Linked DNA regions of Homo sapiens. The protein of the gene in region 2 purifies or fractionates together with the protein of the main gene of each other region. This does not show direct contact. Each region holds a gene or a part of one and is shown on either strand. Other genes may lie near its edges.

Region 1 (6,222 bases), on a different chromosome or scaffold from region 2:
TTCCTGCCACCCTAAGATCTCAAAGAGAGATCTTTTGTTTCCTTCTGTCTTCAGAATATCTCTGGGCAAAAATGACAGGGAGAACCAAATTTGAGTGGAAGGCTCACTAAGCAAATCAGTGGTGACTCTGGTGTAAAATTCCAGTACCAGACTTTGGCACAAAGATTTTTCCCTCCTACTCTTCCTCCCAAGGTGTTACCTAATGTACATTATCCTTTCCAGGTTCTAAGAGTGAGGTTAATGGGAGTAAAATATCACCCTACTAGGCAATTCCTTGTAAGATCAAGAAGTGTGCTAGATAAGCAAATAAGTCTTATTTTTTTCTTTTATTCACGTGGTATAGGAGACCACTTCTTAGCTTGACATGCTTTAAGCCAAAGTTCCCTAGATTATTCCTGATGTCCACAGACTGCCACAGCCACTACTTATTCTTACTCAGGGGCCTTTGAGGCTACTCTTTTCATATGAAAGGGAGACAATTGTCACGGCTGCAGCAGGAACTAAACAGGAGGCTTAGCTTCTCAAGACCGATAAAGAATTTAGCAAACATTGAGCAGATAATTTTGTAATGAGGTTGTAAATAGGAGTAATAAGGTCAGTCTATTAAACTCATTAGTTTCAATAAGAATTTGCCAAAGCTGGATGGCATTCCCATTTACCTCCTGGGGAGCTCCCCTCCTAAAACCTACCAGAGAGCCCAAAACAGTATGTACGGTTTTAAGATTTCTTCTCCACTTGATAGAAATCACTATTAAGTCATTACAAGGAAGAAAGATTCAACTTTACAGAGGAAACAGAGGTCTCCTGGCTGTTGGCAAAATTTTTCACATGGCAATACAGCAATGGGACAAACATGCCAAGATTAAAATTGGCAGTGACAAGCTGGGCACAGTGGCATGTGCCTGTAGTCCCAGCTACTTGGGAGGCTGAGGTAGGAAGATCACCTGAGCTCAAGAGTTCATGGCCAGTGTGGGCAACATAGTGAAACCCTGTCACTAAAAAAAGAAAAAGAATACATATACTATGTTTAAAAAATGACAGTGACAACAAAGAGGGGCAGCTCCAACCGCTAATGGCCAAGGTGGGCAGCACACAGATACAGAAAAATAAATTATGAATTTTAATAAACATCACATCCTGCTTAACGACTGTGGTGAAATAAACTCATTCCTACTTAAAGACTCAATTTCTCCTTCATGCCAGACAAATGGTAACTTGTTAGAGCAATTTAAACAGATACCGATAAAGGAAGCTTTTGATTAAGGTCATGAATCTGGGCTGACAGGAAAGCGATGGTGTTTCAGGGCAAATAGCCTATTTAGGAAAGAATTAAACCTGGTGGAGAGGAAGGCGCCTTTAATGTGATACTGGTGAAGGAGCCTGGCAACTTCCAAAGCAACTGGCTGCAGCAGGGCTAGGAGCCTACACCAGATGCACAGCTAAGGAGAGAAGGAATTTTCTTAGGGTCTAGACCATAGTTTTCCCGTGAAAAACAACCAAAGAGAACAAAATGACCTCATCTGCCTCTCCTTACTTCAAAAAGTTATTTGACAGCAAATTTGTAAGAATGTATTTACACTTGAAAATACCTTCAAACTCCTTTGAAAATACTCAAAAGATCACGATGCAACAGTGGCCATGACAACAACATCCCTTTTCTTCTTTACTCTGGCCAGATGTCAGTCTTTGACCTGGCAATGCAGCTACCATGTGAATAATGTAAAATAAACACACTGATTAAACTAAATAGATCTAATAATGAGTCATTACATTGATTTAGCAGAGGAGGAAAAAATAAGGTCCACACAGACAGAAATAGTAACTACTGTTTTGTTTTTCTAATTGTCCTCCCTAAAGAGCATTTTTCAATCATCTACCTGAACATTATGTTCAGGTAGAAGTGGCTGCAGTAAATGGAAACACCTCTGCTTTAATAGAATGATTTGAATAGGAAAGCTGCATATACATTTCAGGGGATATGTAGACAGCAAACCACCAGGGTATACTGTCCGGGGGACACCTAAGAGAATTAGATACAGAACATAGGTGATATAAATGCTAAGTACTTAATGAAATGATCTTCTGCAGACTGGAGGAGACAGGCAAAATGAAAACTGTGACGCATTTTAAGCTTCTTGGAAAAGATACTATTGTTGCCTTTTATCAGTTCTATTCAGTAACTATTTACTGAGCTTTTGCTCCAGGCTAGGCATGGTGGGAAAGAAGGCACAGGGAGCAGTCTTGCTGATAAAGATACTGCCCTCAGTTTCTGTGTCAATGCAGAGCTGCCCCTTCCTAAAATAAATTAACCTAGGGAAATCTAGAAATGTTGGTTTGCCTCTGCCTCCCATCTCATTTTCTGCAAATGAAAGGACGAAGTGGCCTCTTGCCAGACACATACAAGGAACTGGACACCTCTGGATTTCCATTCTTTTTTTTTTCTTTTTGAGATAGGGTCTTGTTCTGATGCCCAGGCTGGAGTGCAGTGGCATAATCTTGGCTCAGTGCAACCTCTACCTCCTAGGCTCAAGTGATCCTCCCACCTCAGTCTCCCGAGTAGCTGGGTCTACAGGTGCATGCCACCATGCCCAGCTAATATCTGTATTTTTTGCAGAGGTGGGTTTTCACCATGTTCCCCAGGCTGGTCTCAAACTCCTGGGCTCAAGCAATCCGCCCACCTTGACCTCCGAAAGTATTAGAATTACAGGCATAAGCCGCCATGCCCAGCCTGGATTTCCATTCTACACACACAACAGCAATAGTCAATCCTGACTGAGTCATATAGTACCACTTCCAGAGAAGGGGGAAGAGTAATCTCAATTCAGTCACAAAAGCTTGAAATTTAAATCAGAACGGTTTCCTTGAAGGATCCTTACCCTTATACACTTACCTTCTTTTACCTGGGACTTGTCCTTTCCTTACTTCAAAGAGATGTTACTTGAGAGCAAATGTCCCCCAAGATCCACTTAGAACCAGATATCACTTGTTCCCCAGACATACTCTCTCTTTTTCCCTTACAAGCCATCTCTCCCAATACCCCTACCCAAGGAGATTCTATCTTCACCAAGCTGCTCAAATTCCAGGTGAGAGGTAAAATTCCCTTTCCTCAAGAATCTCCAGAACCATCGCGTGCAGTAAGTTTTTGCCTTCTTACTCAGGAACTTCAATTCCTACCTACCCTGGAATCTACTGTGACTTTGAAGCAGAGGTGTCCAATCTTTTGGCGTCCTTGGGCCACACTGGAAGAATTGTCTTGGGCCACACATAAAATACACTAACAACAGCTGATGAGCTTTTTTTTTTTTTTTTTGAGACGGACTCTTGCTCCGTGTAGTGCAGTGGCACAATCTCGGCTCACTGCAAGCTCTGCCTCCCGGGTTCACGCCATTCTCCTGCCTCAGCCTCCCGAGTAGCTGGGAGTACAGGCGCCTGCCACCACGCCCGGCTACTTTTTTCTGTTTTTTAGTAGAGATGGGGTTTCACTGTGTTAGCCAGGATGGTCTCGATCTCCTGACCTCGTGATCCGCCCACCTTAGCCTCCCAAAGTGCCGGGATTACAACTGTGAGCCACCGCGCCTGGCCAGCTGATGAGCTTTAAAAAAAAAAAAAAAATCCCCCAAAAATCTCATAATGTTTTAAGAAAGTTTACAAATTTATGTTGGGTCCCATTCAAAGCAATCCTGGGCCACAGGTTGGACAAGCTTGCTTTAAAGGCGTGAACACCTCCACATACAAAGCTGCAACTGACTCTCTTATCTAGCCTGGACTACAGCGACACCGATGCTCCATTCGCTGTACCACCTGTCAAGCTTCTCTCTGGACCAGCTTCTCAGTAGCAGCTGATGAGTAACTGCCCTTCAATAAGCTTATCACTTGTGAATAAACTGTATTTCCTACTACCTTCAAAGGGTGCTTCACACCCTTTCAGTCACCAATCTGTTATGAAATTTCATTCCAGTTTCCCAGTGATCCAACAGAGGATCCAATATGCAAGCCTGCTGGTGTGCTGGGTTGAATATGGTATCCTCCCCAAAGCCTGTAAATGTGACCTAATTTGGAAATAGGGTCTTTCCAGATTACATCAAATGTAATACTAGATTACAGTGGGCCCTATCCAATGACCGATGTCCTTATAAGAAGAGGGAAATTTGGATACAGACACACACAGAGGAAAGGTAGAGGCAGAGATTGGAGTTATGCTACCACAAGCCAAGGAACACCAAGGAATGCTAGCAGCCAGCAGAAGCTAGAAGTGGTAAGGAAGGTCTTCCCAAGAGCCTTTGAGGGAACATGGCCCCACCAACACTTTGATTTTGGACTACTAGCCTCCAGAGCTGTGAGAGAATAAATGTCTGTTGTTTTGGGTCACCCAGTTTGTAGTAATTTGTTACAGTAGCCCTAAGAAACTAATACAGCTGGCAAGTCAAGGTAAATGCAAATTTACCTTGAGGTATTTGAGGCAAGCTCCCAGACATTTTACCATTCCTCAGAAAGCATCTATGGAAACTGTGAATAACCCTAAAAGACAGGCAAAGCAAAATGCTAGTTTCAACCAGATTAGTGAAATCTTCGACGCTTAATGCAAACAGTGAACGCAGCAATGCTCCAGTAGTTGGATACTTCTGACCACAACCGCTGAAGGAATTGAGAAAACGGTATGCATGCAAAAAAAGTGAAAATTAGGCTCGACGGCCGCAGCAAAGAGGCCCTCCCTTACAAAAGAGCCCCAGGATAATTAACAGCTATTAAGGGCACACAGCACTCAATGCTCACCACTACTTCTAACTGGTTTAAGGCAGCAAGAGTGCCACCTACTGAAGGACAACCAACAGAAAGCAACTTCTGGAAAAATTACCATTTTTTATTTAAAACAAGTTTCCCCACTCTTAGTAGGAGAATGGCAGAAGGGAAAAGAGTCTATAGCCAACATCTCTCTGTAGAGTATTCCTAATTTTCCTCAAGGGACCAAGGGGCAGTGGACTATAGTCTGCTCCACCTAGATTAGACACTGTGTGTTCAAATAACCAGATGGCCAGTGGCCTCAGACCACACAAGCACACGTACCTTTTGCTCCATGACTGACAGAGGAGGGAGGTTCATCATCGGACGTGGAGCTGAGGCTCAGGGCAAGCTCTGCAACTCTTTTTTTCTGTTTCTTGATGGGGGCAGTGCATTCTGGGTCAGTTCTCCTCTTCATCGTTAACTGTAACCATAAATCCAGTCAGTCAGCTGCCCTTGGGTCACAGCCACTGGGATCACAGCAGGGATTCCAAAGTGTAAATCATCAATGGGATGAGATTTGGCAATTCTACACATCTTCCAGTGCCAGCACTTGAATAGCCTCTTCCTCAGAATGAGGTCTAGGAAGGATGCTAGACAAGTGTTGGTTTTCAATAATAGCTGTTTTACTGGAAAATGTGGTGCTCACAGACTGAGAGAGCCCTGGGCCACTGGTGTCAGATAACAGAAAGTCATGGATCAACTCCACAAGCCACTGGGGGATAAAGCCTTGGTACCTGTAGTTATTCTACACTTTTGATGCAATATTGGCCATGCATGACAATGTACACTGAAAATGAACTATAAAACCGAATAAATATTAACCAATATTCCCAAGGTGAAGGGACCATCCCAGAATGACTGTTTCATCAGCATTATTTTACCAAAACAATTAAGAAATTACATAATATCATAAAAATACTGGTTTTGGTTTACTTCATAATGTTTGAAAACATGAAAGAATTGGGAAAGTTTTTAAGCAGAGTAGGGAATGGAAGCAGTGAAATGACTTAAGACCGAGGAAACACAAGAGCGGGAAAGTTATTGGGACTGGAGGTAGCTATACCACAGAACTCAGTTACGAAAACAACAATTTTAAGGACAGAAATCCACCTCCACAAAAAAGAGTGGAAACCAGCTGGGCGCGGTGGCTCACGCCTGTAATCCCAGCACTTTGGGAGAAAGAGGTGGGCGGATCACCTGAGGTCAGGAGTTCAAGACCAGCCTGGCCAACATGGTGAAACCCCATCTCTAGTAAAAAAAACACAAAAATTAGCCGGGTGGTGGCACATGCCTGTAGTCCCAGCTACTCAGGAGAACCGCTTGAATTGCTGAGGCGGAGGTTGCAGTGAGCCGAGATCACACCACTGCACTCCACCCTGGGCGACAGAGCAAGACTCCGTCTCAAAAAAACAAAAAAGAAAGAAACAGGCACCATGCCAC
Region 2 (6,222 bases):
CAGCTTGGGCAAAAGTGAGACCCTGTCTCAAAAAAAAAAGAAAAAAAAGAAAGCCTAAGAGTATGGCCTTGACTGGAGTTCCCTTAACTTATAGGAGCACACAGAGAATCTAAGCACTCCTGAGGACCACAGAATTGTCAAGAGGGCAATCCTGACTACCATGCTACCCTGTTGCCTATTTTAGTCCCTTCCTATTAACTGTTTTCCAGATGAGGAACTGAGGCTTTGTGGTCATCTTGTTCATGTATTTACTTGTTTACTGTCTGTACCCACTATTAAGACCATAAACCCAAGGAGGACCAGCACCCCCATCTGTCTGGCTCACTACTCCGCCCCTTGCACCGAGCACTGTGCCTGGTACAGAGCAAGAGCTCAATAATGTTGGATAGATGAATGGATGGTTGGATGACTGTGCATCAGGCCAATCTATCTCATTTCTTTTTTTTTGAGACGGAGTCTCGCTCTGTCGCCCAGGCTGGAGTGCAGTGGTGTGATCTCGGCTCACTGCAAGCTCTGCCTCCTGGGTTCACACCATTCTCCTGCCTCAGCCTCCCGGTAGCTGGGACTACAGGCGCCTGCCACCGCGCCCAGCTAATTTTTTTTGTATTTTTAGTAGAGACGGGGTTTCACCGTGGTCTCGATCTCCTGACCTCGTGATCCGCCTGCCTTGGCCTCCCAAAGTGCTGGGATTACAGGCGTGAGCCACCGCACCCGGCTGATCTATCTCATTTCTAAAGGGCAAGTTCATGGTTCCTCTAATGCGAAAAGGATAAAATCAAAATTGCTCTTTTTTGTTTTTTTTGAGACAGTCTTGCTCTGTCACCCAGGCTGGAGTACAGTGGCACAATCTCAGTTCACTGCAACCTCCTTCTCCTGGGTTCAAGTGATTCTCCTGCCACAGAGTCCCAAGTAGCTGGGACTACAGGCATGTGCCACCACACCCAGCTAATTTTTAAAAAATTTTTAGTAGAGATGGGGTTTCACCATGTTGGCCAGGCTTGCCTCAAACTCCTGGCCTCAAGTGATCCGCCCGCCTCAGCCTCCCAAAGTGCTGGGATTACAAGTGCGAGCCACCACGCCTGGCCCAAAATTGCTTTTGACCATGCCTCCCCATCCTCACCAAAGCAACCAAAGCTGCTCTTCTCTATCTGCCTTATGTCAGGGCTTTTACGTTTAATTTCACTTTAAGTAGGGGTTCTTGGGCTTACAAGTTTCAGAAAAGCAGCTGCCCCAGTGGGCAACAGGGAGACAGACATAGTTAAATGAGTAAGTAGCAGGCTGATTCAGTAGAAGAGGCACTGCAGGACCTCTGAAGCTGTGTGACCTTGGGTAAGTTATGTCCCTACTCTGAACCTCTACTTTAAAATTTACAGACTGGGCCAGAAGGTCTACTTTTCCTTCTAAAGTTCGAATACTGATTCCTAACTTCTAGCTAAAATTCTGACCATCACCTGACAAAGGTGAGGAAAGCAATATTTAAAAAAAAATGTTCAGGGCTAAGTGCGGTGGCTCATGCCTGTAATCTCACTGCTTTGGGAAGCCAAGGCAGGAGGATCACTTGAGCCCAGGAGTTTGAAACCAGCCTGGGGAACACAGCCACACCCCCATATCTACAAAAAATTAAAAACAACCAGGTGCGGTGGTTCAAGCCTGTAATCCTAGTTACCTGGGAGAATGAGTCAAGAGAATCACTTGAGCCCAGGAATTGGAGGCTGCAGTGAGCTGATTGCACCACTGTACTCTAGCCTGGATGACAGAGCAAGACTCCCATTTCTTAAAAAAACAAACAAACAAACAAACAAAACTCAAGGCTGCCTGACATTGGCACCCAGATCGTCACTAAGAAGGTGTAAGAAGGCCAGGTGCAGTGGCTCACGCCAGCAATCCCAATACTTTGGGGAGGCAACCCATCAGATTCTAGTGTCTGAATCAAGCAATCTGAATCATTTTTTAGTGAGTGACTTCAACTGTTTGGCATTCAGGGTATACTTGTAGGACAAATTAACCTCCACTCTTCTGCCACAGATTAAAAACCCACACTAGGCAGAGTCTCTCTGCTTTTTCCCTCTGGGAACCTCAGGGCAGGAAGAGATATGAGAGTGTCACCTACCTATACAGCTTGTATTTGGAAGCAAAAGCCTTGCCACAGTGCAGCTGAGGGCAGCTATATGGTCTCTGCTCTGGTTGCGGGAGGCTGTGAGGCCTCAGCTTCTCCCCATTTGAGAAAGGTGTTCCCGAAATTTCACATTGGCACTTCACTTGACTCTCCGCCTCCCGGCCCCGAGGCCTGGGAACTAGTTTCCAGCCCACTTCCTCCTCCTGCTTTGCATCTTGAATCCAGGGGGGGACGCTGGTGAAAAATGTGGTCATGGCAAGGCTAATGGCAAAGGGCCATGTTATTGAGAAAGCCTCCCCATCCGCTCCACACAGGCTCTCAGCTCTGTCACAGCCTCCAACGCAGCTTTCAGAAAACAATCTCTTCACCTGAAACATCAGAACACCTGGTGTTAGGGAGCCCAATACCATGAGAACATGGGCTCTGGAAGCAGACAGATCCCGTTCCAATCCCAGCCCTTCCACTTAGAAGCTGTGTGACTTTCAGCCAATTACTTACTTCCCTGAGCTGTTTCCTCATTTATAAAATGGGCATAATAATCTCCTAAATTATAAAAATGTTTTGAGGATTAAATGAGATCATGAATATAAAGCATTCAGCAGAAGGCTGGGCATCCATTAAGTGCTTAGTGGTAGCTACTATTACTAGTACCATCTAGGCTAATAAGAAACAAGATAAACTGAGGAACCAAAAGCCCCAAAACTTCAAACTTTTTCTTCTGGACCTCACTTTTATATCCTTTCCATTGAACCTAGAGATAGCGGTTCCTCCTTCTTATTACCCTGGCACCTCCTCGTCCACTACTTTCCACAATTGTCCTCCTCATGGAGGTGCTAAGGAGCAATAAAATGCCCAAAAGGCAAGAGAGGAGGAAGGGGAAGCCTCTACTTAGGAAATTTACATCCTAGTCAGTCCTGGTACCAGATGTGTTTCTTAGCAGTGCATCAACATCAGGAGGGTCTATATGGGAAGGCAACAGCAGATTCTTAGCATTTTCCCTAAACCAGGACTAGAACTGGTCCCATCCTGACCACCACCACTTCTCTGGGTCACTGTGTCTCAGGGCCCAGACCATCCCTCTTTAGCAAAGCCTGTCCAACACCCCTAGGTGCTGAGAGGCCCCTCCTACAGGGCCTCAGAGTACATATGCACATCTCCTTTAGAAGACGGTAGCGAGCTCGCATTGGAATTTACTCCTCTCCACCAGCCTGATTGTCTGAGGGCTTGCATCATCTCTCTTTCATCTCTATATACCTAATATCTAGAAAAGGAACCCTAACTTTATTTCAGATAGGTAAACTAGTCACTGAATGCAGGTTGATTCTCAGGGACCAACCTAGGCCCAGGTAGTTCTGGTTTAAACTGGGTTCGCAGCCATTCCCAAGTGGGGAGCCGAAATCTTAAAGTCTGATTCTTTCTCTTGTTGAATAGAAGGGGAGATGTGCAAGAACGACACAACTCCATTCCAGATACTAATCCAGAGGAAGAGGATGGGAGTTACCACACTGACTCTCAAAAGGGGACAAGAGACCCACATTCATACTCCCAAGCTTACCACAGATTACCAACCACGATGCAACCTGCTACAACAGGGGGATTCCCTTTGAAGAGATGGTGCCAAAATTTGATCATGAGGCTTTTCCATGTGAAGAGAGAAAAGGGGGTGTCTGGGGATTATCCACGAGAATCTGGGGAGGGCTCCAACTGCACAAACTAGCTGTGGGCCACAGAATGCTTGCTCAGCTCATTAGCACCTGCTGCTTACAGTGACCATTCATCCAACAGACTGGCCGTGAACAAGATGATGGGATCAGCGGGTTCATGCCCCAGAGAGCTTTGCTCATCATTAACATGAGCTACGTCCTGTTCAGGAACCATTCCTCTTGTTGAAGAAACACTGCGATGTAATATGATAAACACGTCCCCATCACGAGTGTAGATTTGTCTAGAAAGATCTGCATTAAGGTGGCTGCATTTTGCATGAATCACATGCTGGGGAGGGGTAGGTAGCACTAAAAACTAGTCCCACTTGAGCCTTCAAGTCATTATGGCATATGTGCCTGCTTCACTATAAACCTCAAAGGCCTGTGACGTCTGGCTTTCATTGTTTAAGTCCCCTCCTCCTTTGCAAGGGTGGAATTACCTGTTTGTAATACCAGCAATTACTATGCACCTTGGAATTGAGCAGAGAGTGTGCTCGAGTGTGCATGTTTAGATTGGAGGGAATTACCCCTACCTTCAAAGTCAAATTCTACTCCCCCTTCAATTTGAAATCATGCACCTCAGCCTCTGGAAAGTTGGGAATGGCAGCCAGAAGGAAACAAGTCACATCAATTTGGCTGATGTGAGAGAGGAGCCTAGCCCTGGAAACTCCACACAAACTCAGAAAGAGAACATTACGTCCCCACCTCCCACACGTCCACCTCATCTGTTCTCCTGAACAAGCACAAACAAGACACAATAGTTTAGTAGGCTGCTACTGAAAGAGTGAGTAATGGGCTTCTAGGAAAGAGGCTGGTGGTGGCTAAGGAGCTTGTACTGATAGAACCAAAGGAGGAAAGCAGCAGCCATGTGCTCACCTTGATCTGCTTTTAATGGGGCTATGTCTTCACAAAGAAAAGAGCCAACACCCTGATCCTACTCTCCTACACTTTTCAAAAGGCACAGGAAGTCCCTACCTACAGTCACCAGCAGCCTCTTGGATAACCAAAGCTGCTAGTGTTACCTAGGAACCCTTTTGGGGATCTAGTCTCTCTCTGCCCTTTGTCTGAAAACTCCTCTGATCCAGAAAGATTCCTGGGTTTGTCTTACATAAGCAGAAGGCCTGTTCCTTCAGACTTGTCCTTCCTCAGCAAAACTGTGAAAGAATTCTACTTCTCTTTCAAAGCTGCTCTTCTGGTCTCACATTTTAATCTTAACAACTATAGACTATAGAGAAGCTGACAGAACCTGTTTCCATAAAACAAACACAATCCTTCCCAGTTACTGGCACAACTCAGTATATTTTCAGCCTAAGATTCTTTCTAGTGCCTGATCTGAAAGGGGAAAGAACCTTGGACTTGCTATCAGAAGAGCTGCCACTTACTGGCTGGGAAACCATAGGCAGGTTACTTTATTTCTCTGAACCTCAGTTTCCTCAATTTCTAAAATACGGATTTATTTTCCTTACCTGTAAGATTCGTATAGAGGATTAAATGAAATAATACTCTTGAAAGTGGCTGATACAAAATGTGTGCTCTGAATACATGCAGTGCCTTCTCTGAGGTCTCGGCTGTGTCTGCCTCTTTTTCCGCATGAGGCCTGAATAGTACTTCTTTTTTTCCTCTTTAATGTTACTTCTCAGGCCTCAGAGTGAGTTTCCTTCCTTTCCCAACATCTCCCCCAGAATGCAGTCTTCCCCTTTTCCCTCACAACTAACCCTCGGCACATCCCCTTTAAAGAGCCCCTTACTTTACCTCCCTCCAGGCACCATCTCCTGGGCCAGAGTTCTCTCTTAAGCAGAGAGCCACTTTCCTATACTCTCTTGTATTATTAGGGCTCCATATCCCAAACAGGAATGCTTGCTAAAAACTCTGTATGGTCCTCTTTGAAAGCTGAAACTGAGACATATTTCTCCCCAGTCTGTCCGTCCCCTGTTATGGGCCATGATGCCTGCTGCTCTCTGATGAAACTATAGTTTTTATGGTGTTACATCATCTCTATAGAAACTGCGTTCTTTCTCCATTATTAGCCTGTTTCCTCATCTGTAAAGCTAAAAATACTTACCTCACAGGCTTGCTGTAAGGATTATTTTAGTGAGGTATGCAAAGGGCTCAGCACAGAGCTTGGCCTGCTAGAAGTACCCAACAAAAGAGAGCTATTATCTTTGTCTTTGTATTGAGTTGCATGTTTCCACCTTCTGCTGCCACACTCAAATTCTCCTCACTCCCCCCTAAAAAACAGTTGAGAGATAACACCCCTGCACAAGGAAAGGGTTAATCTTTGAGTGTTCTTAACTAAAGAGACCCACAGAGGATTAACAGCTCCACTTCAGTGACTACCCTAAAATAGCTTTTATCCTCCTGCCCAAGAGTTACTTGGGGATCTGAAGAACTCAATTCAACACC
Region 3 (6,222 bases), on a different chromosome or scaffold from region 2:
TTAAAAGTTCTTTGTATATTTTGGATACTGGTCCTTCATCAGATAATGAATTTTGTAAAGTCTCCCACTCTGCTGCATGTCTTTTCATTCTCCTAACAGCATCTTACACAGAGCAGAAGTTTATAATTTAAACAAAGTTCAACATACTGATTTTTTTTTTCAAGGATCATGTTTTGGTATTGTACCTAAGAAGTCACTGCCAAACCAAAAATTTTTCTCATGTTATCCTAGATTTTCTCCTATGTTATCCTCTAGAAGTTTCAGTTCGCATGTTACATTTAGGTCTATGATCCATTTATTTTTGTGAAAGTTGTCAGGTCTGTGTCTAGATTAACTTTTTTGCATGTGGATGTCCAGTTGTCCTATACCATTTGTTGAAAAGGCTATCTTTTCTCCACTGAATTGTCTTTGTCCCTTTGCCAAAGATCAGTTGACTTTATCTGTGTGGGTTGATTTCTAGGCTCTCTGTCCAATTCTACTGATTTATTTGTCTATTCTTTTGCCAATGACATGCTGTCTTGATTAATGTAGCTTTACAGTAAGTCTTGAAATTGGGTAGTTTCAGTCCTCTGACTTTTTTCTTCTTCAATACTGTGTTGGCTGTTCTAGGTCTTTTGCCTTTTCATATAAACTTTAGTTTGCCAGTATCCACAAAATAACTGGCTGGGGTTTGACTGGGACTGCACTGAATCGATATATGAACTTGGGAAGAACTGACATCTCAATAATATTTAGTCTCCCTGTCCATTTACATGGAATATCTCTCAGTTTACTTAGATCTTTGATTTCTTTCATGAGTGCTATAATTCTTCTCATATAGATCTTCTACAACAAACTTTGTTAGAACTACACATATTTCATTTTATTAGTGTTAATATGAAAGGTATTGTGTTTTTTTTTTTGAGACGGAGTCTTGCTCTGTCCCCCAGGCTGGAGTGCAATGGCGCGATCTTGGCTCACTGCAACCTCTGCCTCCTGGGTTCAAGCGATTCTCCTGCCTCAGCCTCCTGAGTAGCTGAGATTACAGGCACCCGCCACCATGCCCAGCTAATTTTTGTATTTTTAGTAGAGATGGGGTTTCACCATATTGGTCAGGCTGGTCTTGAACCCCTGACATCAGGTGATCTGCCCACCTCGGCCTCCCAAAGTGCTGGGATTACAGGTGTGAGCCACTGCACCCAGCAGTATTGTGTTTTAATTTCAAATTCCAGTTGTTCACTGCTGGTAGATAAAAAAGCAATTGACTTTGTATATTAACTTTGTATTCTACACCTTGTCATAATCACTTATTAGTTCTAGGAGCTCTTTTTGTTGGTTCTTTGGGATTTTCTACATATGCAATCATGTTATCTGCAAACAAAGATATTCATCTATTTTTTTTTTTTAAATATAGATGGGGTTTCACTACATTGCCCAGGCTGGTGTCGAACTCCTGGACTCAAGCAATCTTCCTGCCTTGGCCTCTGAAAGTGCTGGGATTATAGGTGGGAGCCACCATGCCTATCCCTCAACTGTTTTTGACCTATAAAAACAGTAATTTCAGCCCAGGTGTGGTGGCTCATACCTGTAATCCCAGCACTTTGGGAGGCCAAGGCAGGTGGATCACCTGAGGTCAGGAGTTCGAGACTAGACTGGTCAACATGGCAAAACCCCGTCTCTACTAAAAATACAAAAATTAGCCAGGCGTGGTGGTGCATGCCTATAATCCCAGCTACTTGGGAGGCTGAGGCATGAGAATTGCTTGAACCTGGGAGGCAGAGGTTGCAGTGAGCCAAGATCATGCTAAGGCACTCCAGCCTGGGCAACAGAGTGAGACTCTGTCTCAAAACAAAACAGAAAACAAAACAAAACCTAGTAATTTCACATGGCTCAACCTAACAGAAAACAAAGTCGTCTCCTCCCACCCATTTTCTGGAACACCAATAGTCAAGCTTGTATTCTCCAAACAAGAGACTAGAAAATTCTTTTCTAGAGAAGCCAAATAACCCCAGAAAAAAAAGACTGACAGCTATAGCCATTTGGAGAAACCCAAATAAACAGTAGGCTTGCTGCTTGATCATCCTGTGATTAATGGGCTCTCACTATCAACAATTTACTTACTTACAGCACAGAGTCCTAATCAACTTTTTTATTGTTCCACGTAATATAAGTGGACAACCAGAATAACCAGACATTTGAGAGAAGCTTCCAATATGAAAAAGCTTAAGGCAAAAAGAAAAGAGGAGGAATCTTGAAGAAACAGATAATAAAGTAAACAAAAGAAAACTTGACAAAACCTCTCAGAGACATAAAAGACACTGCATCTATGAAATCAGAATAGGGCTGGGCACGGTGGCTCATGCCTGTAATCCCAGCACTCTGGGAGGCCAAAGCAGGTGGATCACCTGAGGTCAGGAGTTTGAAACCAGCCTGGCCAACATGGTGAAACTCCGTCTCTACTAAAAATACAACAATTAGCCGGGCATGGTGGTGGTGGGCACCTGTAATCCCAGCTGCTTGGGAGGCTGAGGCAGGAGAATCACTCGAACCCAGGAGGCGAAGGGCGCAGTGAGCTGAGATCGCACCACTGCACTCCAGCCTGGGTGACAGAGCAAGACTGTGTCTTAAAAAAAAAAAAAAAAAAAAAAAGTGAGAAAGATGAAACAAAAAAACTTTTTTTAAATTAAAGAATTATAGAACCTTTCTCAGAATTGAAGGATGAATATCTAGAAAGGTCCAAGAGGGGCTGGGCGCAGTGGCTCATGCCTCTAATCCCAGCACTTTGGGAGGCTGAGGAGGGCGGATCACCTGAGGTCAGGAGTTCAAGACCAGCCTGAAACCCCGTCTCTACTAAAAATACAAAAATTAGCTGGGCGTGGTGGCAGATGCCTGTAATCCCAGCTACTCGGGAGGCTGAGGCAGGAGAATCGCTTGAACCCCAGAGGTGGAGGTTGCAGTGAGCTGAGGTTGCACCACTGCACTCTAGCCTGGGTGAGAAGAGTGAGACTCCTTCCCCCCTGCCCCCACCTAAAAAAAGAAAGAAATGTACAAGAGGGAAGAAGAAAAGAAAAAGTAAATGCATCAAGCATATCATTATAAAATATCAGAAGATAAGAATAAAGAGAAGATCCAAAAAGCTTTGGGAAATAGAAATAAGAAGTCCAATGCTATCCTGATTCCTGATCTTCTGTCTCTAATACAAAGCAGCACTGGAAGCTAGAAGACAATAGATAATGCCTTCAAAATACTCATGGAAAATAGTTTCCAACTTAAATCTTGACATCCAGTCAAATTATTAATGAGAAGACAGCAGAATAAAGATATTTTCAAAACTACAGCATCTCAAAATATTCCCTCACACAACCTTTTCTCAGTTACTGAAAGATGTAGCCATCAAAATGAGAAAATAAATCATGAAAGTGGAAAATATGGAATTTAAAAGACAGGAGATACATAATAAAGAAAGGAAAAAAGGAAAAGGAAATTATGATGGTAGTGAAGACAGATTAGAGAACAACCACTTTGACACAGGCATGGAAAGCATTTGGTCTCGAATGAAAAGAAGAAGGTGGTTCCAGGAAAAGGTATTCTGGGAAAAAAAAAAAAAAAAAAGACCTGAGTTAACAGGTTTTTAGATTGGTTTGGCCATGTGGAAATTAGACTGAAATGGAACAGAAGAATTATCAATCGATAAGATGAAAATGAAGCAAATGAAAAAATAACACAATTATTTAGGGGAAAAAAAGGCTGTACAAGGAAAAAATAGTACGCTACTTGGCTTGGTAATGAATAATATTTAAAAGCACTAAATATTCACTGTACTCCAGCCTGGGTGAGAAAAAGTGGGAGGACAGGAGTAGAAGGTGTGTGGTATGATGGAGCTAAGGGTTCATTTACTATGATATGCAAGTTAATAGATTCGAAAAGGTAACAAAAATTAAGAAATGGCTTTATAAGATTATTTAAAGAGGTAAGTTCTAACATTTTTGAAAGAAGAAAGGCTTATGTTTAAGCTTATATGAAAGATAACATCATATTTGGAAATTCATGGAAATTTCTGTAATCTCAGCTACTTGGGAGGCTGAGACAGGAGGATCACTTAAGCCTAAGGCCACGCTGGAGAACACAGCGAGACTGTCTCAATCAAAAAAAAAAAAAGAAAGAAAGAAATTCATGGAAATTTTAGTAGATAGAGAAGAGCTTTTTAAAACTGGAGAACAATCACATTCTTCTATAAATCTCAAAGAATCACATTTAAGCAGCAAGAGAACAAAATAAGAAATATAAAAGCTCGAAATGATAGACAAGCTGCACAGGATACAGAAGAGATCTATGAAATAAGGACAGAAGAATATACGCTTTCTTAGTAAAATATTTGAGAAAAATATTTAGACAGATCACTGTGATATACTTTAAAATGTAGTCTTACTTTTGGGCGAGAGGAGAGGGCATGTTCTATTTTCTGCTATTTAGTTTGAGTTTTTTGTCAAAGATTAATATTGGCTACTTTCAAAAATTATGTTTAATGTTAAACTACAATTAAAAACATGGTCCTATGGGATTGAAGGAAGATGGAGAAGTTTTTCAATATCTCCTTCCAGGGCTATGGCTTCATGAATGAGCAAGATTTAAAGCACTTATTTTAAGTAATTCTGAGAACAATCTACCTCAAGTGAGTATCTTTAGTATTATCTCCTTAAAACCAGTTTTAGATGACTAATTATGATTCTGTGTTTCTACAATGAAATAAAAATTCCAGTATACTCAAGAATGCCTGCCACTCACCTTCTTGATATAATCTAACAATGTCTCTATTGTGGTCTATGCAAGCTTCCTACTACAGGGAATTAGGAATAAAGCTGATTTTTTTACACAATAGAGGCGTGTTATGGGATAAGTCTTACCCATTCATAGGCTTAACAAGATTCATTTTGTGAGTCTATTGTGAAACGCTGAGCTAGGACAATAATATTCCCTTTCTTGGAAATCTGAACTACAAGGAAAAAAAGTTCCATTTGGCAGGTGTGGTGATGTATAGACAAGTTTGTACCAGGATATAAACCTTTAGACCTGGCTCTACCACAGATCTTGCTCTTCCTTAGGTCTCAGTTTGCTAAGTTTACTAAGGTTTCTGCCCCTCCTGAGGTCAGGTTATTCAACTTTATTTGAAATAACTTGCAACTGGCATTTTTACATTATTATAGCTTCTTAATTGCACATTATGTCACTACCATGAAAATATGCCTAAATTCAAATTCACATGTTACTTATTATTTTAGATATGTTCTCTATAGGCCTGGGTAAAGCAAAAGCTGAATGACTTTTCTTGCATAGCCTAAATATTTCCTTGGTATTACCTTCACAATTTTAGATATATTTTTCTACCGTAAAAAGCATGTCCCTTAATAAATAAATGTAAGAATTAGGTGGCAGCTATAGCACTAACCAGGCAGCTCTAATCTTAGAAAGGTATTTCCTAGGTCTACCACTTAACTAAAATCTTGAGCAAGTCATTTTAGCTCTTAGGACTAGTTTCTTTATCAATGAATCGATCAGAAGACTGCTAAGATCCTTTTCAGGTCTACAATTATGTAAATCCTCTTTAAGCAAGCTTTTTTTTCAATATTTAGTCTATAGCATTTACTAATCTTATATAACTCCAGCAAAATGTTAGCTCAATACGTAAGCTACGTTTCCCAAAGTGTGACCTGAGGTGGTACATGACATAAATCCAGTTCACATAATGACAAATGCTTTCTATTTTAATAATTATCTAATTATTTTACTGGGTATTAGCGAAAACCTAACTTGCATATCAGACCAGTGATTTTATGTACTTAGAATGAGTAATAAGTAAAATAGACTTGAAAAATATTCAGTAAGTTCTAGTACAGTTGGTACTCACTTACAAGTGATAAACACCATAAAGGCAGTATGTGAATGACTCAAGACTATGGAAAAATTGAGACAGCCATAAAACCTTTGCACATTTATTTAATAATGCACCCACCACAACGTGCCACACAACTTATTTCCACTACATGTTGCAGGTAGGTCCGTAAGATTTTAATGTTAATAGTGAAATAACTGTGACCCAGAAGTGAGTCTTCAGATTTATTTTTTGCAATATTATTGGAACAGCACTAAATATACCATCTGTGAACTGGAAAAATTCAAAACGGTGCTAAGTATGGAAAGCCAAATATTTATTATCAACTGCAAGATTGCCTATCTTCCTTAATA
Region 4 (6,222 bases), about 13 Mb from region 2:
TTGCATGCACATAAAAATATATAAATGATAAAAAGCAACCCAGGTTCTAGCCTTGGCACTGCCTCTTGGTAGCTGGAAGATCTTGTGTGACCTACCTAACTTTTGGACCTCAATTTCCTCACCAATAAAATAGGGCAATACTAATTCCACAGATGGCTATTTTCAGGGTCAAATCTGAGAGTATGTAAGAAAGTACGGAACACACTATAAACTTAAAGCAGGACAATAAGTAAATAAATACTAATAAACAAATATCTGGTAAAGAAAAGGTATAGCTTCTGGGCTATGAGAAAAGGGGAGAAGAGCCTGCTATTCCTCATTTCTGGTTTGGGCTGAGCCTGTGAGTATCCTCCCTCATCTAACACATGCAGCTCTGCTCCAGCCTTCAAGGAGAGGAAGCAGAGGGAACATGGTGAAATCCAAGCTGCTCAACTTGGTGTTCAGGCCCTTCACTGCTTGGCCCCAATTAATTATTCCAGCCTCAGCTCCATATCATCTGCTTTTCAAAAATTTTTAAAACTATCTTTATAAAATACTAAATATTTATGACCAGGGTAAGATTATAGGTTTACACCCTGAATTCATTGCCTGGTTTAAGAAAAAGAACATAACTAGGACCTTTGAAGTCCTGGGGGACCTTCCTCAATTCAATCCACTGCTGGAGGAAACTATTATCCCCAATTCTGTGCTTCTTCCCCACCTTTTTAAACAGTATAACTATATACAACAGTACCCACAGATCATTTGCTGTTTACTTTGTTTTTGAACTTCATACAGAAGAATAAGTCTGTGTATTCTTTTATGACTTGGTTTTTCTTTTTCCCCTTAATGTTATATTTCTGAGATTCATCTGTGTTGATGCACAGACCTGCAGCTCCTTCATTTTCATTGCTGCAATACCAAAGCTGAATTGTCCATTCTCCCATTTATGGAGATCTGGGTTATCTCCAGTTGTTTTTTGCTATTACAGTCTTCTACGAACATTTGTGGGTACATCTCCCTGTGCACATGCACACAGGTTTCTCTTGAAGTAGGGCTTCAGCTTCACTGGCACCCTGCAACACACCACTCTGCAGTCATCCTTATTCCTACTGTTCCCCCCATGCACTTTCATTCTCCAACTCTCTCCACTGTCTCTGCCAAGGATTCTCCTTCCTTCCCACCTGATGACCTTCTTCAAGGTCCAGCTCAAGGCTCCACCTCCATTGCCACCCCTTCTGAGTCTTTCCCCGACTCCCTCATGCACTTAAGTCAGTTTCTATCCTGAAGTCCTCAAACACTAAGACTCTAAAGCACATGTTCCTCCTCCTTGTGTTTTAAGACACTGTTTACATGTCTCAGTCCCTCAACTGAGGGAGAGTTCCCTGAGGGCCAAGACTGTCCTCTGTGTCACACTGCTTAGCATACACATGGCTTGGAACACATGGCTCAGTGACCCTGAAAGAATGAAATCAATGGTAGGTGCACTGATTTAAAGAATGAAATCAATGGTAGGTGCACTGATTGAAAGAATGAAATCAATGGCACTGATGCCATCAGGTTCATTAGCACCGCACATTTTCATCCTAGAGAAGAGTGGGGAACACTTACCAGGCTCCCACAAACCAGAGTGAATGCTACCCATGACCAGAGAGGCATTCTCCTGTAGAAGGTGAGTAACTCTTGTCCTCCCCTAACACCTATAGGTCACTTACACATGGCAGGGCTCCATCTCTGATCCCTTCTGCACCTCTAGCCTGAATCCCTAGCTTGCTGGGCTGGGACCATTCCCCTGGAGCATTAAAAGAGCTTCCTAGTGCCTGACAAATGGCCTCTTCATTTCATACAGTTGAGGTGAGGAATCTCCTGTTTTTGGCTGCTTGGATCTCCTTTCTCTTCTTCATGCTTCTCCAGGGATTCACACAGTGTACATGCTCCTGGGAAGCATCACCCTCTAGTTCTGGAGGTGGGGCAGGTGCCTCAGGGTGACCTAATCACAAAATCTCATCCGCCGGTTATGGTGTGTACTTCAGGGAATGGCCTGTGACCATGAAGACCAGAATAGATTGAGAAAATGATTGAGAAAATATGTGAGCTAGAGTTTTTTGGGGGAAAAAAATCCTATCTTTTCCTAGTGAGCTATCAGAGAAAGACTTTCTTTCTCTGGGTCATGAGGCATGGGGTATGGATGTGAGGCCGGGAACTGCTATAGCTATTTTGCTACTAGGAGGGAAGCTTGCCAAAGACAAAGCTGACGCACAACAGAAAATAAAGCTGTGATAAGTACAGAAAAATGGAGTTAGTCTGTTAATATACTGAGCTGCTGGAGCAAACCTTGCCTGAATTCTCTCGGATTTTTCAGTTTTATGAGCCAATAAATTCCCTATACTATGTTTACCATGTTGAGCTTTCTGTTTTTGCAACCAAAAACATCCTAAGTACTACATCCCAAGTGCTACCAGAGGAAAGAGAAGGGAACTCACACTGCATGCCTATGTGCCAGGCTGGGAGTTTTACATGTCTTATGTCATTCAGTCCTCATGGTTGTGAGGAAGACTTTATCATCACCCTCACTATACAGCTGAGAAAACAGTCTCTAAGAGGTGAAGACTTGTATTTTGTTTTATACTTTGTTCCTAAGATTATTTTTATAACTCAGCTAAACAATGCCAATTTTTGCAGGACTACTCTAAAGAAAATGGATAGTGGGAGATTGCAAGACTCTGGGCAGGGAGTCACAGCTCACCTCTGTTCTTTGTAGCTGTGGTTTCTTTGGATTTGCTTTTAGCCATCTCTTTGTGGTTCTCCGAAGGCAAGGAATTCCACCTCTTCTGAGCTGAAACAGGCACCAAGGGGATTGAGGGCAGCTTCAGGCGCCACTCAGGCCCAAGCGAGTCCATGAGAGCTCTGGTCATTCTGGAAAAGAAGGCAGGATTGCAGGGAGGTTTCCAGCTGGGTCAAGAAGATATTTCTCCTTTCACACACCCATGGGAGGTAGGCCTTTTCAGAAGAGCCAGAGCTGCCACCCTCCCCCTGGTCGGAACCACCTCTTTAGCTCCTCCAACACGTGCAATACAGGAACCCATAAACACCATCTCAGATCAGTCCCCATGACATTCCTTGAGCTTGGTCAAACTATGTTACCTTTAAAGTGGTGATCTGTTGCTTGTTAAGGATACTTAAACCATGATCCAAAAAGACTATAGTTTCTCCAAGAAAGAATCATACATTTTGTTTCATATTTTATCAATGAATCAAGTACACAACCATGCAAGCACCTGACATTTGTTTAATGCTCAGGCTTTTTAAAAAATGCAAAGCTTATGTCATTCTCAAATCTTACAACTCCTCAGGGGTTCCCAATTCCCTAGGCTAATGTGGCATGTGAGATCTGGTCCCCACCCCTTCCTGTCCCCCTTCACTGTGAGCCACATTCTCTTCTGATCCTTCTGTTCAAGACTTTGCACATGCTTTTTCCTCTACCCAGAACAACCATTTTCATTTTGGAAAAAGATTGCCACCTTCCAGGCCCGGCTAACTCCAACTTATTCTTTAGATTTCAGCTTAAAATGCCACCCAGAGACCAAGTTCATTCTGTCAACTGATCTCCAGCACCTGGTATGTCACCTAGCAACCACCAAGGCCCAATCAGTTATGTGTTGAATGAGTGAATAATGCTAACTGTATACTTTTTCTGCTCCTACAACCATGTTTCCTATATTACAAGAATAAAAACCACAGACTGTATCACTACAAATTCCAAGATGTCTCTGGCTAGGCTGTTTTCCTGGCGGCCAAGCTATTTCAAACCTCTGCTCTCCTCAAACCTGTTCCCTGGCCCTTCCCCTTTTTTAGAGCAAACTTCCTCATACCCCAAATACAAACCTACCTGCCTGGGTGCCCAATCCTTCCTATTTCTCTCCTGTCACAACAGAAGAGACAATGGGACCAATCCACCCACCTAAGCTCTGGATCCCATCTCCTCTTGCCTCTTTCAGGGACCACACCCAGGCAGCACCTCCCTCTCCCACATCTTCATCCTTCCTCTCTACTAACTCCAACCGTCAGCATTTAAGTCCCTTTAACTCTTTCCTCACCTAATAAAACCATACTGGACACCCCTTGCCATCACAGGTATACTCCCCAGCTTCTCTTCAAGCCTGACTTTCTGAAAGCATTGCCCTCTGGCTCCTGATCCCACTGACCAGCTTCCATCAGAGCCACCGGTGACTTCATTGCCAAACCTTTAATGTAAGCTCCTTGGAACACCTGACACTAATGATGTCTCCATCTTTCTTGAAATACTCCTTCCCTTGGGACATCAATGCCCTGTTTCCTCCCACCTCTCTAGCTGCTGTTCCTCTGTAAGTCCCTCAAATGCTGGAGTTTCTCAAAGCTCCATCCTCTTCACACTAGCTGTGATGTTCTTTTTCTTTCTCACAGCCCTAATCCACCTCTGCGCTGATGACCCTCAAATCCTTATGTCTGGCCTGTATTTTCTTCCTTTGTTCCATGTAAATACCCAACCGTCCTACTTAGATCTCTAGTCTTATGTCCCACAGTCACCTCCGACTGAATGTCAATAATCTGAGTGTCTTCTTCTATTCCTCCCTTCTCGATACCCCGCAACCACTAAAGCTTGTTGATATACTTCCTACATGTCCCCTGACTGGTCCCATTGTTTTCTCTCCACCCTCTCCCCTGGATTGCTGCATGACTCCTTTCTATTCTGTTGCCCTTCATATCATCCCTCAACATGGCAGCAAAGAGCTTTTCTCTAAAATACAAATCTGCTCATGTTGCTCCACTGCTAAAGACCTTTTCATAAAGGCTGACTTGCTCAGGATTAAGTCCAAGCCCTGAACCCTGGGTCTTGTGTGACTTGGCCTCACCAACCTGTCCCAAGCTGAGCTCCTGCCTGCAGCACCATGTGAAACCGACTTCTTACAATTCCTGTGATCTGTCACACTTGCTCACCTTTGCACACGCTGCTCTGTCTTCTGGCTAACCCCCTACCCCATATCTCTCATTCTTAGCTCACCTCCTCTGAAAAGCTCTCTCTGGCCTCCCCCTCTCCCTCTCAGCTAGCTAGGTGGCTCCTTTCTGGCCTCAGAGCCCCCTGTGCTGCCTCCTACCATGGCGCTTATCATGTTGTATTGTGCTTGCCTATTACTGACTGGTGTCTTCCTTGAGACCGGGACCTCTATGACGGCAGGAAGAGGTATGTCTCAGTCATCAGCCCAGGTCCTAGAGCAAAGTCTGTCACATAATTGGTAGATTTTGTGGAATCAGATAAGTTAAAAAGGAGGCAAAGAGAAAACAAAGAATGCTGGCAGACAAGTCAAGCCAGAAATAAAGCACTAAATACATACCATGAAGTCCCTGTTAAGGGTTTGCTATTAGTGCAGTGTTTGGCTTTCTAGCCGCACACGCAGAGGGGAAACATGATCAGTTATACAAATGACAATATCCATGAGATAAAAGCCAATAACTGCTCAGAGACCAGAAAGGAATTGCACCTGGGGAACCTCTTGGATTGGTCACAGTGCAATATACTGAACCATGTCCACAAACCATATCCTTTTAGGCTTGTCATAGCTGCTTGGGCTTGTGTCTTATTCTTCTAATTAGCGTTAGCGCTTTGAAGGTAAGTGGGGTCTGTATCTCTTTCTCATTTTGGTATCCCCCACTGAACCGGGCACAACACCTTAAACAGTGTACAATAAATATTACTGTGTACATAGATACTGTGAGGCACATGTAGGCAAATATCAATCAATCAATCTTAGTAATTGACTCCCTGAAAACCTGCTAAATAAAAAAGCAGATTTTCCTTTCTCAGCTTCCCCTACATGCCCATCGGGAGTTTTTTAAGTGTAGCCAAAGGGATCCCCTCAGAAGACAGACAAGGCAATGGCCCGCAGCCAATCAAGAAGGACAGGGAGTTGCCGTGGAGACCACCTGCTGGGAATGGAGCTCACCTGTTGATGCCTTCTACGGCTGACGTCACATTATCATCAATCTGCAGCACAGTCTTATAGTCAACATAGGCCATAGGGTACTTCTCCAGAGCCTCATAAGCAGATGCTCGCCGCAGCAGGGGCTTAATGCTGAAGGGAACCAAGGCCAGTGCTCTAGAATAGGAGGCAAAAATGTCAACTGGCTGGCTGCTGAGCCACCAGGGTTTCCCTACAGTTTCTTCCAGGCAGGGTTATCTGGAGCACTCAGCGTACAGGAAGTAAT
Region 5 (3,478 bases), on a different chromosome or scaffold from region 2:
GGCAGGATGAGACCTCTCACCCAGAGGCCCAGGCAGCTGCAAGGCCAGCTTGTGGGTGCCGTTGAGCTCATCTGGAACCATGTGGGAGGCCAAGGCCAGGCCTGGGGTCACCCATGGGCTGAAGCTGGAGGAGAGGGAAGCAACAGCTGGAGGAGGAGGAGGAAACTGTCACCATGATGGAAAACATGGGAGAAGGTGGGAGTCAGCTCCTCAGAGCCCAGTGCCCCAGCTGAGAGGTCAGGAGGAGGAGGCCCTTGTGACCTTGGAAGCCAGAGCAGGACACCAAGGAAGGACCTTGGAGAAGGGAATGTGGAGGTGAGGCTTGTGGATTCAGCAGCAAACGAAGGGGTGGTGGTTAGAACGGTGACTGGAAGGACTGTCCTCTCCTGTTGTATAACTCAGTTCCATGCTGCAGAAACACAAGTCTTTCCCATACTACATTTCAGAGGCAAGGTTGAACTCAGGTGACTTATCTACCTGCCCAATGAGCCAGAGACAGGTTTTATTTTTTTAAAGCATTTTAATAAAATTAACAAATAAATATTCTAAACTGTATAGGCTACAGGGACAAAGGGTAGAAGCTAGAGGGCCAGTCTTTCCTGCTCAGGCCCTCAAGTCCCCTTTAGAGAGACCCTGCTCTGGGCTGGTTTGGGGCTAGGACTGCTGACTTGGGGAGGCGGGGAGTGAACCCGGAATGGGTGATCTGGGCTCTTGCAGCCATTCCTCTTTGTTGGTGTAGGGGAGGAGAGAAGAGGTCAAAGAAAGCAAGACCCTGCAAGAGGCATCCCAGTGACCCCCAGAAGTGACTGGGGTAAGGGGAGCGCTATCCTAGAAGGAGGGGGTGGGACGGAGGGGGCAGTGAAGCAGGGCGGTGAGCATGGCCAGTGGTGGGCTTCGGCCGCGGTTCTACCTGTGGCCACTCACTCTCGGACGTAGACCCTGGTGCACACAACGTCATCCGCCGTCATGGTCTGGAAGGACAGAAGTAGTTGTTAGCCTGAGAGGCCCCTGGGGTCCTGTGGCTTTGGAGAGGAGGGTTGAATGGAGGTACTCTGCTTGGCCTCCAGGTCCAAACCTGCTTCTTGGCTCAAGACCAACAGGCAGGAGCTGGTCCCAGAATGCCCAGGCATCAATGGAGGGAGGATAGCAATAGAGCCCCTGGGGCCCGTCCTCCTCCTCAAGCCAGGAAGATCTCCCTGAAGAACTGCTGGGATCCCTCAGTACATGCCCTTTGCTTGCATAAAAGGAACACCATTTCTAATTCACACAGGGCACTGTATGGGATAGGGACACCTTAGTTCTGTTCAAGCAGTCCCATCAGCAGGGTGCGGAGTCCAGCCATGGTTGTTCTTGAGTCTCCTGCACCCTGGGGTCTCCCAGAGAATCTTGGAAGGTAGCACTGGGTTTGCTATTAGTGGGGAGGAGGCAGGACTTACCAGGATCAGTTCCCCATCGTTGGTCAGTTCTCTGGTCCACGAGGTCTTGGGGCCCTCTCCCTTCAGGAGCTTCTGCTCACAGACCATTTTATTCTCACTCTCCCATTTCACCAGGCTCTGCAAGAGACAGGTGGCCAAGTGAGCTGGGCCCATAGCAGGGGCAATGCAGTGAGAGGGATAAGGGAGAGAGCCCCTTTCTAGCCCCCACCACCACCTAGGGATTTTCCCTACTGGGACAGAGAGAAGCTAGGAGTTAACTGCTAGCCTGGAAAATGGCAGGTTGAGAGGCAGGGCAATGACGCCATGACCCTGGAGCCCCTTCTGGCACTCACCTTACAGGGCCTCCCATCCACAGTCTGCTCCTCAAACTCCTCCCCAACCTTGAAGTTAATCTCTGTGGTGCGCACGGTGGTGGAGGTTTTGATGTAGAAAGTGTCTCCCTCCTGTTTGATCTCCACTGCTGGCTTGGACGCTGCAGCCACAGCAATCTTCCTCAGCATCACATTCACCCCTGTGGGGAGAGAGGAGAGGCTCACCTTTTAGGGGCCTTTGGGCACCTCTCTCACACCCTCCCCATAAGACAGTTGGAGCAGGCTGATTTGTGACTTGCTTGGGGTGGGTGTGTTGGGGGGTGCATCTGCCTGGTGCCTGGGTGTCTAAGAAAGTGCCTTGAAGGAGACGGTAGGCGGTGCAGCCCTGAAAGATGAGGGGGTTTAGGGAGGAGAGGGAGAGAGGCAGTGGCCTGCCCCTGGGAGTCCTGTTCCTAGCTGTGGCCCCACCTTGTTGAGTCAGCAGGTCTGGATCAGGCTCCCCACGTCTCAGCTCTTCAGTCCCAGAATGCCCAGGGGCAGCTTCTCCCCAGCCCCCTACCCAACAAACATCCTGCTACTGGCTCCGGTTGTCTCTGTTTACTTCACTTTTGGCCTTTTGTCTACCCTGTTGACAGCTCATCAGAGTCACTGGGACTGTACCCCTGGCCAAGCACAGGCCAGACCCCATCACTCATGTCCTGGGAAGTAGGAGCCATTTCCCTTTTTGCCCTATCTACCCACCGTATCTAGTGCTAGATAGGTCTTCATTTGCCCAATTTCTGCCCCACAGCAATGAAAGAGAGCAGGGGCAGCTGCTTCCCTCTACAGAATGGTCAGCAGCCTGGGAAGACAGAGGCTCTGGAGTAAGGTCCAGGAGGCTGTGATTTCCTCCTGGCTCAGCCCCCTTACAGGCTGGGTGACCCTGAGCAAATGGCTTAACCACCCTGAGCCTTAGATTCCTCAATTGTAAAATGGAAATAACAGCTTCTTCAAAAGCCAATCAAGGTTGGGTATAGTGGCTCACACCTATAATCCCAGCACTTTACAAGGCCAAGGCAGGTGGATTGTTTGAGCTCAGGAGTTCGATACCAGCCTGGGCAACATGCTGAAACCCCGACTCTACCAAAAAAAAAAAAAAGCCAGGGCTGGACGCAGTTGCTCACACCTGTAATCCCAGCTACTCAGGAGGCTGAGGCAGGAGAATTGCTGAATTGCTTGAACCCGGGAGGCGGAGGTTGTAATGAACCGAGATCATACCACTGCACTCCAGCCTGGGTGACAGAGAGAGACCCTGTCTCAAAAACAAAACAAAACAAAAGTCTGGGCGCAGTGGCTCACGCCTGTAATCCCAGCACTTTGGGAGGCCGAGGCGGGCGGATCACGAGGTCAAGAGTTCAAGACCAGCCTGACCAGCATAGTGAAACCCCATCTCTACTAAAAATACAAAAATTAGCTGGGCATAGTGGCGCGCACCTGTAATCCCAGCTACTTGGGACGCTGAGGCTGGGGTAGGAGAATCACTTGAATCCGGGAGGCGGAGGTTGCAGTGAGCCAAGATCACACCACTGCATTCCAGCCTGGGCGACAAGGCGAGACTCCATCTCAAAAAAAACAAAAAACAAACAAACAAACAAAAACGACCTGGCGCAGTGGCCCATGCCTGTAATCCCAGCACTTTAGGAGGCCGAGGTGGGTGGATCATCTGAGGTTGGGAGTTTGAGACCAGCCTGA

Evidence for each region.
Region 1: the proteins of PLAGL2 (region 2) and CMTR1 purify together in Homo sapiens (affinity purification with mass spectrometry; one large-scale study listed by BioGRID and IntAct). This does not show direct contact.
Region 3: the proteins of PLAGL2 (region 2) and SPAST purify together in Homo sapiens (affinity purification with mass spectrometry; one large-scale study listed by BioGRID and IntAct). This does not show direct contact.
Region 4: the proteins of PLAGL2 (region 2) and TOMM34 purify together in Homo sapiens (affinity purification with mass spectrometry; one large-scale study listed by BioGRID and IntAct). This does not show direct contact.
Region 5: the proteins of PLAGL2 (region 2) and CRABP2 purify together in Homo sapiens (affinity purification with mass spectrometry; one large-scale study listed by BioGRID and IntAct). This does not show direct contact.

Annotation. Positions count from the first base shown.
Region 1 is NC_000006.12:37,434,605-37,440,826, reverse strand, and holds part of CMTR1 (cap-specific mRNA (nucleoside-2'-O-)-methyltransferase 1), read right to left. Parts: intron 5,204-6,222; 5' UTR 5,198-5,203; coding exon 5,065-5,197; intron 1-5,064. UniProt on the Homo sapiens protein: S-adenosyl-L-methionine-dependent methyltransferase that mediates mRNA cap1 2'-O-ribose methylation to the 5'-cap structure of mRNAs.
Region 2 is NC_000020.11:32,199,809-32,206,030, forward strand, and holds part of PLAGL2 (zinc finger protein PLAGL2), read right to left. Parts: intron 5,396-6,222; exon of another isoform or gene 5,286-5,395; intron 5,275-5,285; exon of another isoform or gene 3,672-5,274; intron 2,485-3,671; 5' UTR 2,371-2,484; coding exon 2,111-2,370; intron 1-2,110. UniProt on the Homo sapiens protein: Shows weak transcriptional activatory activity.
Region 3 is NC_000002.12:32,117,942-32,124,163, reverse strand, and holds part of SPAST (spastin), read right to left. Parts: intron 1-6,222. UniProt on the Homo sapiens protein: ATP-dependent microtubule severing protein that specifically recognizes and cuts microtubules that are polyglutamylated.
Region 4 is NC_000020.11:44,949,108-44,955,329, forward strand, and holds part of TOMM34 (mitochondrial import receptor subunit TOM34), read right to left. Parts: exon of another isoform or gene 6,114-6,222; coding exon 5,961-6,113; intron 2,896-5,960; coding exon 2,726-2,895; intron 1-2,725. UniProt on the Homo sapiens protein: Plays a role in the import of cytosolically synthesized preproteins into mitochondria. Binds the mature portion of precursor proteins. Interacts with cellular components, and possesses weak ATPase activity.
Region 5 is NC_000001.11:156,699,106-156,702,583, forward strand, and holds the end of CRABP2 (cellular retinoic acid-binding protein 2), read right to left. Parts: intron 1,948-3,478; coding exon 1,769-1,947; intron 1,554-1,768; coding exon 1,437-1,553; intron 972-1,436; coding exon 921-971; 3' UTR 501-920; downstream 1-500. UniProt on the Homo sapiens protein: Transports retinoic acid to the nucleus. Regulates the access of retinoic acid to the nuclear retinoic acid receptors.